Linked DNA regions of Homo sapiens: regions 2 and 3 are each reported to be linked to region 1. Evidence: microRNA targets listed by miRTarBase, many of them from high-throughput screens and not tested one by one. Region 1 holds a microRNA gene; each other region holds the end of a gene's coding sequence.

Evidence for each region. The annotated mature microRNA hsa-miR-4510 reads UGAGGGAGUAGGAUGUAUGGUU and lies in region 1 at 1,526-1,547, shown strand. An mRNA with a match to its seed (bases 2 to 7 or 8) in the 3' UTR can be bound and repressed. Matches are read on the target gene's strand: a 7mer-m8 pairs with bases 2 to 8, a 7mer-A1 pairs with bases 2 to 7 and ends in A, and an 8mer does both.
Region 2: miRTarBase lists CHTF8 as a target of hsa-miR-4510. Seed matches in the 3' UTR shown: 7mer-m8 at 587-593.
Region 3: the mRNA of IL2RB is a reported target of hsa-miR-4510. Seed matches in the 3' UTR shown: 7mer-m8 at 2,523-2,529 and 8mer at 2,171-2,178.

The regions. Positions count from the first base shown.
Region 1 is chr15:35,925,338-35,928,488 of GRCh38, forward strand. It overlaps MIR4510 (microRNA 4510), which reads left to right and starts at 1,519; the gene lies at 1,519-1,586. The region is part of intron 1 of LOC105370766 (a long non-coding RNA gene); the gene reads left to right.
Region 2 is chr16:69,117,621-69,120,620 of GRCh38, forward strand. It overlaps CHTF8 (chromosome transmission fidelity factor 8), which reads right to left. Exons shown (of 4, transcript NM_001039690.5): 4 at 390-3,000. The coding sequence ends at 2,805. HAS3 (hyaluronan synthase 3) reads left to right here. Exons shown (of 4, transcript NM_001199280.2): 4 at 1-40. DERPC (DERPC proline and glycine rich nuclear protein) reads right to left here. Exons shown (of 3, transcript NM_001002847.4): 3 at 390-3,000. The coding sequence starts at 2,808. The coding sequence ends at 1,234. Among named protein-coding and RNA genes, the nearest start is that of CHTF8, 13 kb to the right of the region's middle.
Region 3 is chr22:37,125,318-37,128,317 of GRCh38, forward strand. It overlaps IL2RB (interleukin 2 receptor subunit beta), which reads right to left. Exons shown (of 10, transcript NM_000878.5): 10 at 526-3,000. The coding sequence ends at 2,779. Among named protein-coding and RNA genes, the nearest start is that of TMPRSS6, 17 kb to the left of the region's middle. RefSeq lists an enhancer at 1,831-1,880.

The DNA of each region.
Region 1 (3,151 bases):
GCAGCCATAGAAGAGGTTGAAACCTGAGACTATCTGGTTTAAATTAACCTTTCTTGTTACTGGCAGCTACTAATAGATTGCACTTAATCAACTATCGCATCTCTCATAGAGAAGGAGTCATGACCATGTTTTCCTTATTTATTATGCCATCGTGCAGCGGAGAGTGACCCAGAGGTTTATTCTTCTTATGTGACAAGACTGATGAAATCAATCTCACACCATTTTACACTTGTATCTATTGTAATTTTTATACATATTAAAATAAATACCACACACCTGAATTAGGGTAAATGGCTTGCTTATTCGTCCTCTGAGGTGGGCTTTTGTTTTTCCTTACTAGAAAGTCTGAGCGTGTTTCGTTTCTCATATTTGTTTAAATAAAAAAGAAATTTTAATGATACCATGAATCCTCATGATCAGGGAAGAACGATGTGTCAGTTCACCTGATGACCTCACCAGCAAGTAACAGAAAACAAGCAAAATGACTCATACAATGAGGGCTTTGTTATCTTTATTGTCTGACAAGTCCTGTTGTATGTTCCAAGATCACTGACTTCAAGGGCTCAATGAATGGCTCAGGGATCCATTTCATTTCCACATTTTGTTCTGCCATCTTTGGAATGTTCGTGTTTGTCCTTACGTGGCCCCTCACATCCCCAAGTTACTCCAACCTTATATCCTCAACAATAACTTCCAGAGGTGAGAAGATAGACCATCTCTTCCTTATGTTCTTTCATAAAAGTCAGAAAAACTGTACTAGAAATCCACCCCAGACTTCCCCTCACATTTTACTGGACAGAATGACATTACATCATGGACAAGAGAATGGAATTTACATGAGTCATTTCAACCAGAGTTGATATGCACCTTCAGCTGAGAAGGGACTTAGTCTCCTTTGAAGGATATGGCCTACCAAGACTTGAACAAAATCAACTCTTACACAGCACTTACAACAAGGGAGGCACTATTCTAAGAGTTATTAAACATACATAAAGAGATATAGAAATGTGTATTAAATCATTTAATACAAAAATTATATGAGGTGGTTATTATCTATAACTTATCAAGATATTAAGTAACTTAAGGGCCAGGCACAGCGGCTCATGCCTATAATCCCAGTACTTTGGGAGGCAGTGGTGGGAAGATGGGTTGAGGCCAGGAGTTTGAGTCCATCCTGGGCAACATAGTGAAACCCCATATCTACAAAAAAAATTAAAAATTAACCAGGTGTGATTGTGTGGACCTGTAGTTCTAGCTACTCAAGAGGCTGAACCTGGAGGATCCTTCGAACCCAAGAGTTTGAGGGTGCAGTGAGCTATGGACATGCCAAAGCACTTCACCCTTGGTGAGACAGCAAGATAACCTTGTATTAAATAAATAAATTAATTAATTAATTAATTAATTAATTAATTAAGGTCACACTGTTATTCAGTAGTGACAGCAGGGTTGTAACTCAGGTGATCTGGCCCCAGAGTTGTTGCCTTTAAGATGAATACCAGGTTGCCTCTGTGGAATAGTGTGTATGTGAGGGAGTAGGATGTATGGTTGTTAGATAGACAACTACAATCTTTTCTCACAACAGACAGAGCCTGTCATTAAGTAGGCACTCAGAAATGTTCATGGAATAAGCAAAAAAAAAAAAAAAGAAGAAGAATGAATGAATGAATATACCCTTTGATAGCCTCCAATACAGTGTCTTGTATGTAATAGTCATTCAGTGGTTGCTTAGTTGATGGTGTCTCATTGTGTGTCTATTGCAGCACAATTTAAGTAGAGAATTTAGGATATGCTACAAACTGGTCTATCATTTTCCTTAAGATAAATGAGGGGTAATGCTCAGAGAGAGGGCAGTTACCCATGACTGAAGTGGGAGAGACTGACATTCAGGAGTTTGATTTGGGAAACCCTAGAATTCTAGGAAGTGATTGCTGTTTATAAAAATGCAAATTGGTCCTGTTTAAACTTGTCATTATAGAAAAACCTAGCAAGGCTCATATCCTATGCTAAACTCCGCTACAATCTCTATCCAGAAGATGTCTGACCATTTTATATTGTTTTCCAACCCTTTCTTGGTTTGTTCGCTGGAGAGAATCCATCTCATTTACCACAACTCCAAAATCCCCCTGTGTGGAACACAAGACACATCTATGTCCTGCTCACATTGTTTTCTTGAGAGCAGAGAGATGTCAATTGGCTTGGTCCTCTTTTATATGCAATTAGATACAGCTATCATATATTACCTTGTGACAGATATGCATTGTCTCATTCAATATTAAGTAGGGATCCACATGTAGCCATCCACAGTCGTAGACCTGGATATATCTTGTTTCTACTTGGAGAAATTCAATGAATGGCAACATGGATTTACAAATCAATATTAAGAGGTAATTATTCTGCTTACAAATAAATTTGTCAGCTTCCACATCTGTTAGCAGGTCAGAGATTATTTGAGTTCACATTAGAGTGAAATACATAGAAAAGAAACTTAAAGTTTGTATATTATAGAAGATCATTAGGAAATGCCTTCCTTTGACTCTAGAGCCAAAGGACTAATCTAACAATCAATGTCATCAATAACTTTCTCTACAGTATTTAATGTCAATTATTGATTCCCAGAAAAGCAAACCCTGTTCAAAATGTGTTATTTTGATTTATAAGCAATTCATTCACCATATTATTCTCCCTGACCCGCAGTAAGCAAATAGGCATCAAGCCCATGGTTTCCTAGTTATTAAGAATGATAATGTCTCTTACAGATTATCCAATCCAGACCTCTTGTTATATAGACACAGTTAGAAGGCCCAGTTACTATCCCAAGGCTACATAGCTAATAAAATATACAGCCAGAAGGAGAATTTTGGTCTAGAGCTCTTTCCTGTCCTCACAATTAAATAATCAATTTCTTTACATGTCAAAGTCACTACATCTTACAGTTCAGTGCTTACATAACTTTATACCATGCCTTAAATAATATTCCCAAAATACTTATTTGTATTCTTTATATCTGCTTTGATTCCAGAGTACAGAGAGCTCTTGGAGGATGTGATAGATCATATTTTCCAAAGATGGTCACAATATAATTTGCTACTTTACACACTCTTCTTCATTGTGATTTTGTCCTTACACCATTAGAAGTTTATTTTTCCAACCA
Region 2 (3,000 bases), not on the chromosome of region 1:
ACTTATTTGTCAAAATAAAGATTCTCACATATGCCGGTTATCTCGAAACTACTACTTTGTATTTAATGAAAGCTAGCTCTTTATTCCAGTTTCCAAAGAGGGACTTAAAATAGAAAGTTTAGTCAGGTGGGACTCAAGACCTGGGCAATATGTCCATCCTGGTAACTACACCCATGGGGGCTTAACTTTTAGTGTAGAGGGTCTTTGGTGAAATAACTAACTGGCAGATGAATGGGCCCTTGCTAAGACTAAAAACCAAAGCTTGCTTCCTCTTGGAGCAAAAGCATTTTAGCCGACATGATGTAAGACTGTAGCCAAGCTGAAACAATGAAAAGCAGAGGAAACTTCCTTCCCTATGAAACAGGTAACAAAACACAGTGACACCAGCAGCCCTCTCATCCCATTTATTAAAGAAACAGTAAGAAAAGATACAATGCAGGAAAACCACCAACCATCCTTGCACACCAGGCCGAACAAAGCACAGTGATTTCTTCCCTTCATCCCCCACCCCCACCCTAATTCCCATATTCCCATCCACATCAGTTTAAATTTTGAGGTTCTTTGATTGATTGGGAGTACCAGTGAAGAGGGAGTTGGATGAGTAGAGGGGCCTTAAATCTGGCCACCTCTAAGTCCCAGGAGAAGGGAGCTGCAGGCCCAGTCAGTCAAGCAGAAACTGCATTCGGTGGGTCTTTCTTTGAAGTGGTTGTCCATCTCCCTGTTCTGTGTTCAAGCCCCCAGGGAAAGGTATGGCAGTAGAGGATGACCAGGTCCAAGCTGCCCAGGTCAGAGCTACGGAAGCATGGTCCGTTCACCAACGCCACGTTTCTAGAGAGCAGTGAGCTGATTCTCCAATGGTGAGCAGGGGACTACATGTGAACTGGGACCTGCAGGCCAATGTATCCCTGAGGAAAAGTCCACAAGAACAATTCAAGAAACTAGTAAGAAACAATGGGCAGAAAGCTGTGGGACGAAAGCACAGCAGGCTTCTGGGAGGCTGGAGATCCTTTCTCTCAAGGGCAGGATTATTCCCACCTGCCACAGTTCACATGCCACAAATAACATCTCACCTTCAGTCAAGAAAAACGCAAAGGAAAAAGATGGCTCATTTGAACTTGAGCCCAAGCTATGTTCTTCAGACTGTAGCTCCACAACTACCCTTTTACCTAAGACAGCCCCTGCCAAGAACCACAGTGCCTAGAAACCAAGGTGGTCCTGGAGGGAAAATGGTGTTTAAGGGGGCAACATTCCATTTGGGTACATTGCAGCCATTGGACCCCCTGGTCTGGGGAAAGCAGCTGGGTTTGTGCCAGGGAGGCTCCCCACTCTAGGAAATGGGACGAAACTCTTGCCTGCAGGGCCATTCATCCTTGGAAAGGAAGCTGGGTTGAGACCCAGGGTCCCAGTTGGCCTTGTGAAAGGAGCTGGGTTGATACCCACAGGGCCAGCTGGAGAAGGGCCCAGATGCCCGGCAGCTGGCCTGGGGAAAGTAACTTGACCAGGGCCTAATGGGCCAGTAGACCTTGGGAAGGTAGTTGGACTTGGACCCTGCAGGCCAGTGGCCCTTGGGAAGTTAGCTGGGTTGGGGCCAAGTGGCCCAGAGGCTCTTGGGAAAATGGTTGGATTTGAGCCCTGGAGGCCAGCGGACCTTTGGAAGGTAGCTGGGTTTGATGCCAATGTGCCAGAAGACTGAGAAAAGGCAGATGAACCTGCTCCCCTGGGAAAGGGATTGGCATTTACCCCCATGGGGCCAACTGGCCTTGAGAAATGAGCTGAATTAGGGCCTATGGGGCCAGGAGCCCTTGACATGGGAGATGGATTTGGCCCTGGAAGGCCAATTCCCCGAGAGCTAGGACCCGAGTTTGGGCCCATGGGGCCAGGTACTCTTGCCATGGAGGATGGGCTTGTGCCCATGTTTCCAGAAGCCTGTGAGAAAGAAGCTGAATTTGCTCCTAAAAGACCTGCTGCTCTTAGAATGGGGGCAAGATCGAGGCCTTGAGGTCCAGCCATTCTTAAGTTAAGACCAGATCCTGTGCCCAAGAGGCCACCTGCTCTGGCATCTAGATTAGGGCCTGGGCCCAGGCCACTTGGTCTTGGGTTGGGCCCAAGGCCTGGGCCTGGAAACACACCTGACCTGGGGGCAGGGTTTGTCCCTAAAAAGCCTGATCTCAGATTGGGGTTTGGTCCTGGGCCCAGGCCAACTGGCCTAGGATTGGGAGGACCATTCCCAGAGGTTAACAGAACACCGGCTCTCAGGTTAGGTCCAGATCCAGGGCCCATGGGACCACCACCTCTGGGGTCAGGACCTGCTCCCAGGAGACCACCTGCCCTTGGGTTGGACATAGGACCTGGTCCTGGGAGACCCCCTAACCTGGGGTTAGACAGAGGCCCTGGGCCTGGCAGAGCCCCTGTCCTAGGGTTTAGGGTGGGGCCTGGGCCTGGGCCTGGCCCCAAGAGGCCACCAGGCCTTGGGAAAGAAACTGCACCTGTGCCAGTGGGATTCATCCCTCTTGGAAAAGAAGCCATACTTGGGTCACGAGCACCAGCCGGGAAAGGTGCTGGATTTGAAGCCAATGAGCCTGATGAAGCTGGAAAAGGAGATGGGTTCCTTGGAAATGGGGTCAGATTTCCACCAAGAGAACCGGCCGCCATAAGGAAGGGATCCGAGTTCACACCCAGTGGGTGGCCTGTGTTCAGAACAGGACCCCCCTGTGGTCCCAGGGAACCGTCGAGCCGTCCTCGAGGTGGCAGCGGAGCACGAGTCCAAGGAGTTGGCCGCTCTCTAGGGAAAATCCGAGGTTCTTTCATACTTTCTTGGGGACGCTGGTGATAATGGGCTTGGGGCGGGTTTTGAAAAGGATCTTGTCTTTGATGAGTGCTGTCACCAGGTACCGGGTGCCAGTCTCGCGGCCAAGCTCATCACAGTCCTGATCCCCAGGAGTGTGTTTGACAAGGACTGCAAAAGGTTTCTCCAGGTGGATGATTTTCCCATACAGGATA
Region 3 (3,000 bases), not on the chromosome of region 1:
CCCAGGCTCTGCAGGAGGAGAGCTGTGTTCAATTAGAAATGTCTGCCGTGCATGGGTGCAATTGATTAGTAATGTCTGCCATGAGTGTGGCTTTATGAATGCCAGGAATTGCCATCCCTGGTCTGGTCCAACTTTTATCAGGACACTATCTATCTATCATCTATCTACCTATCTGGAGGGAGGGGGATAGAGGGGGGGGGAGAGAGAGAGAGAGAGAGAGAGAGAGAGAGAGAGAGAGAGAGAGAGAGAGAGGAGAGAGAGAGAGATTCGTCATCAAGTGCAATATTTCCCCAGGCATAGACTTGTGGGATATGGCCATGAGCTGATACCTGGACACAGAATAAGACAGACAGTCCTGACTCCTATTAGTGAAAAAGATATTCCCTTTACAATCCTTTTCCTTTCTCTCAAGGAGGAAGTTTGCATTTGGCCCTGGGATGTCTTCGACAGCTCCCCAGCAGCTTCTCATTTCCCCTTTAAGAGACAACAGGTTTACCGCAGGCAATGAATATCAACACTATTTTGTTGCATTGTACTTATTTTGTACAGTTACCTTTTATTTATAGCGAAAATGGGTTTTTTCATTTACAGAGTAACAAAGATTTTTCTTTAAATAAATGTATTTCAACGAAAATGAACTGACTTAAAGAAAAAATATTAAGGAAATAATCACAAAGATGGTACACACGGATCATTAAAAGATACGGATGTATAGATACATATGTCACAAATGATTAAGACTTAAAAAATGTAACCCTCCCAAGAAGTGGGAGCCTCCCAAAGTGGAGAAGGCAAATACAATTTCCATTTGGGGGGATAAGGAGACCGACTTGCAGAGAGGATTAGTAGGTTGCCCCAGAACACACAGCAAAGGTGTGGAGCCCCTTGTGGTCTGAAACATTCAGGACCCTATGGCAGGAGGTGAGACTGTCCAATAATTCAGCTTTTTTCAAGGCATAGACCCAAGACTCAGACAACCTCAAGAAAGGGGAGTTTATTTTGGATATAAAGGCAACAGGAATCCTGACCAAATGGTCAGCAGCCCTCTCAGCAGTAGGTATTTTTGTATTGGGAACCCAAGGTCCTCTGCTTAGTGGCTCAACGCTTGTCTACCTTTCCAAGGCTCAACGCTTGTGGAGCCTTGTCCACAAGCACCTGCTCCCAAGGGCCTCCCTCCCTGAGTTCAAACGCCCAAGACAGAGTTGATCTGATTGGCTAGTTCAGGCCCAGCCTACCTGATTGGACAGAGCTTGGTGCCAAACCCCCTCATAGGCTGCTGGTCAGAGCCTGTGGGGGCGTGTGGTCAGGTGCCCAATCAGCTGTGAGCAAGGCCTGTAAGTGCAGGTGCCTGAGGGCTCCCAGGTCAGAGTTAGCTGGGACTGGGGTCACTGTCCTGCTGGGGTGGAATGTTGTTTGAGCCATTGCAACGTGATCTGCCTAGGAAAGATACGTGGAGGGGTCGGGGTAGGGGGTTGAGCCCCTTGCAGGAGGGGGCATGCCAGACCTAATGGGCACGGGACTCTGCCTCTCTGTGTGAATGTCAGGCGCAGGGAGCCCAGACGAGGTGGTGCCAGGTAATTAATTCGTTCATCCAGGGTATACGACGGGGTGTTGGGCACTGTGTCTGGGGCAGTGAAAAATAATGAGGCCCTGCCCTGTGGAGCTGCCCTTCTGGAGGCCAGTGTGCCAGTCCCTGAGCTGCAGAGGAGACCCCTCCAGTGGAGGGGGCAGTGGGAGGTCCCAGGCCTGGCAGCATCAGGGCCCACCACTAGGCGGGGCTGCTGCCTGGGCCTCGGACTCCAGGGTTTACTCCCCATCAGCTTCTCTTGTGGGTCTGTGAAGCCACTGTGGGAAGATGCAGCAGGCATCCACTTTGTGGGGGGATCTGTGCCCTTACTTGGGCCCCAGCATTAAAGATACAGCAGCCAAGCACTCTGAGGCCTCAGAGATCCCAAAGGAATAGTAACAGGGCCTCTTTCTCCAGGCGCCCTGGGTCCCTGACAGCTTCTCCCTCCAGCACTGACGCTAGAAGTTTCTGGCAGATTAAGGGAGGCAGTGCTTCCCTCCAGGAGAAGCAAAACCGGCACTTGAAGAGTCAGGGAAGTTTGTCACCTAGATGAGGGGGAGCGCACAGCAGCCCCAGGGAATAGCATGTGCAACAGAGGGGGTGTGAGGGAGCTCTGAGTGGCTCAGGAGGACGGTAGGGAGGATTGCAGAAGGGGATGTCCCCACACGACACCGGAGGTACAAGTACCAGGCTGAGAAGTGGGGCTGAGGGCAGTGGGACCTGTGCAAGGTTTTGAACCGAGGGGGAGCGTGGCCATATTTGGGTTTTGGAAAGCACGCTCAGGCTGCCCTGTGGACGGGGAGGGGAGGGAAGGAGGAGGCTGGGGCAGAAAACCCAGGGAAGAGGTCAGGGCAGGGAGCCCTGGAGAGCCGCGAGGACTGATATTGGTGAATAGCTGCAGGGCTGGAGAGGAGCGATGCTTCTGAGCCTAAATTCGTGGGATCCTGTGATTAACGAGGGAGTTGGGGAGTTACTGCCCCCCTGCAACACACACAGTTCCTGGCTCGGGCAGCAGGACCCGGGAGCAGCAGTGGAGGTTTGGAAATGGATGGACCAAGTGTGCAGGACTGGGTGGGGGCCATCCGGGTGGAGAAGTCCAGCTGCAACTGGACACTGAGTGTCCTCAGCAGTGGACTGAGGACCCTCAACAGGGTCCTTCTGAGGCTCGGCGCAGAGCAGGCAGCTGCCTGCCTCCCACCCTGGCCATCTGTCTACACCAAGTGAGTTGGGTCCTGACCCTGGAGTTCTTGGAGGGACAAGTAGGCATCAGTGTTCAGGGGCAGGCGAGCATTAAGGGCCCTGAACTCCCCCTGCCCAGGAGGCCTGGACCAGGGGAAACTGACTCCCTCCCTGGGGCCAGCGTCAGGGACCTCCTCCCCAGCCTCTCGCAGCACCAGCTCAGGGGGTGGCTGAAAATCCACCAGGTCTGGGAC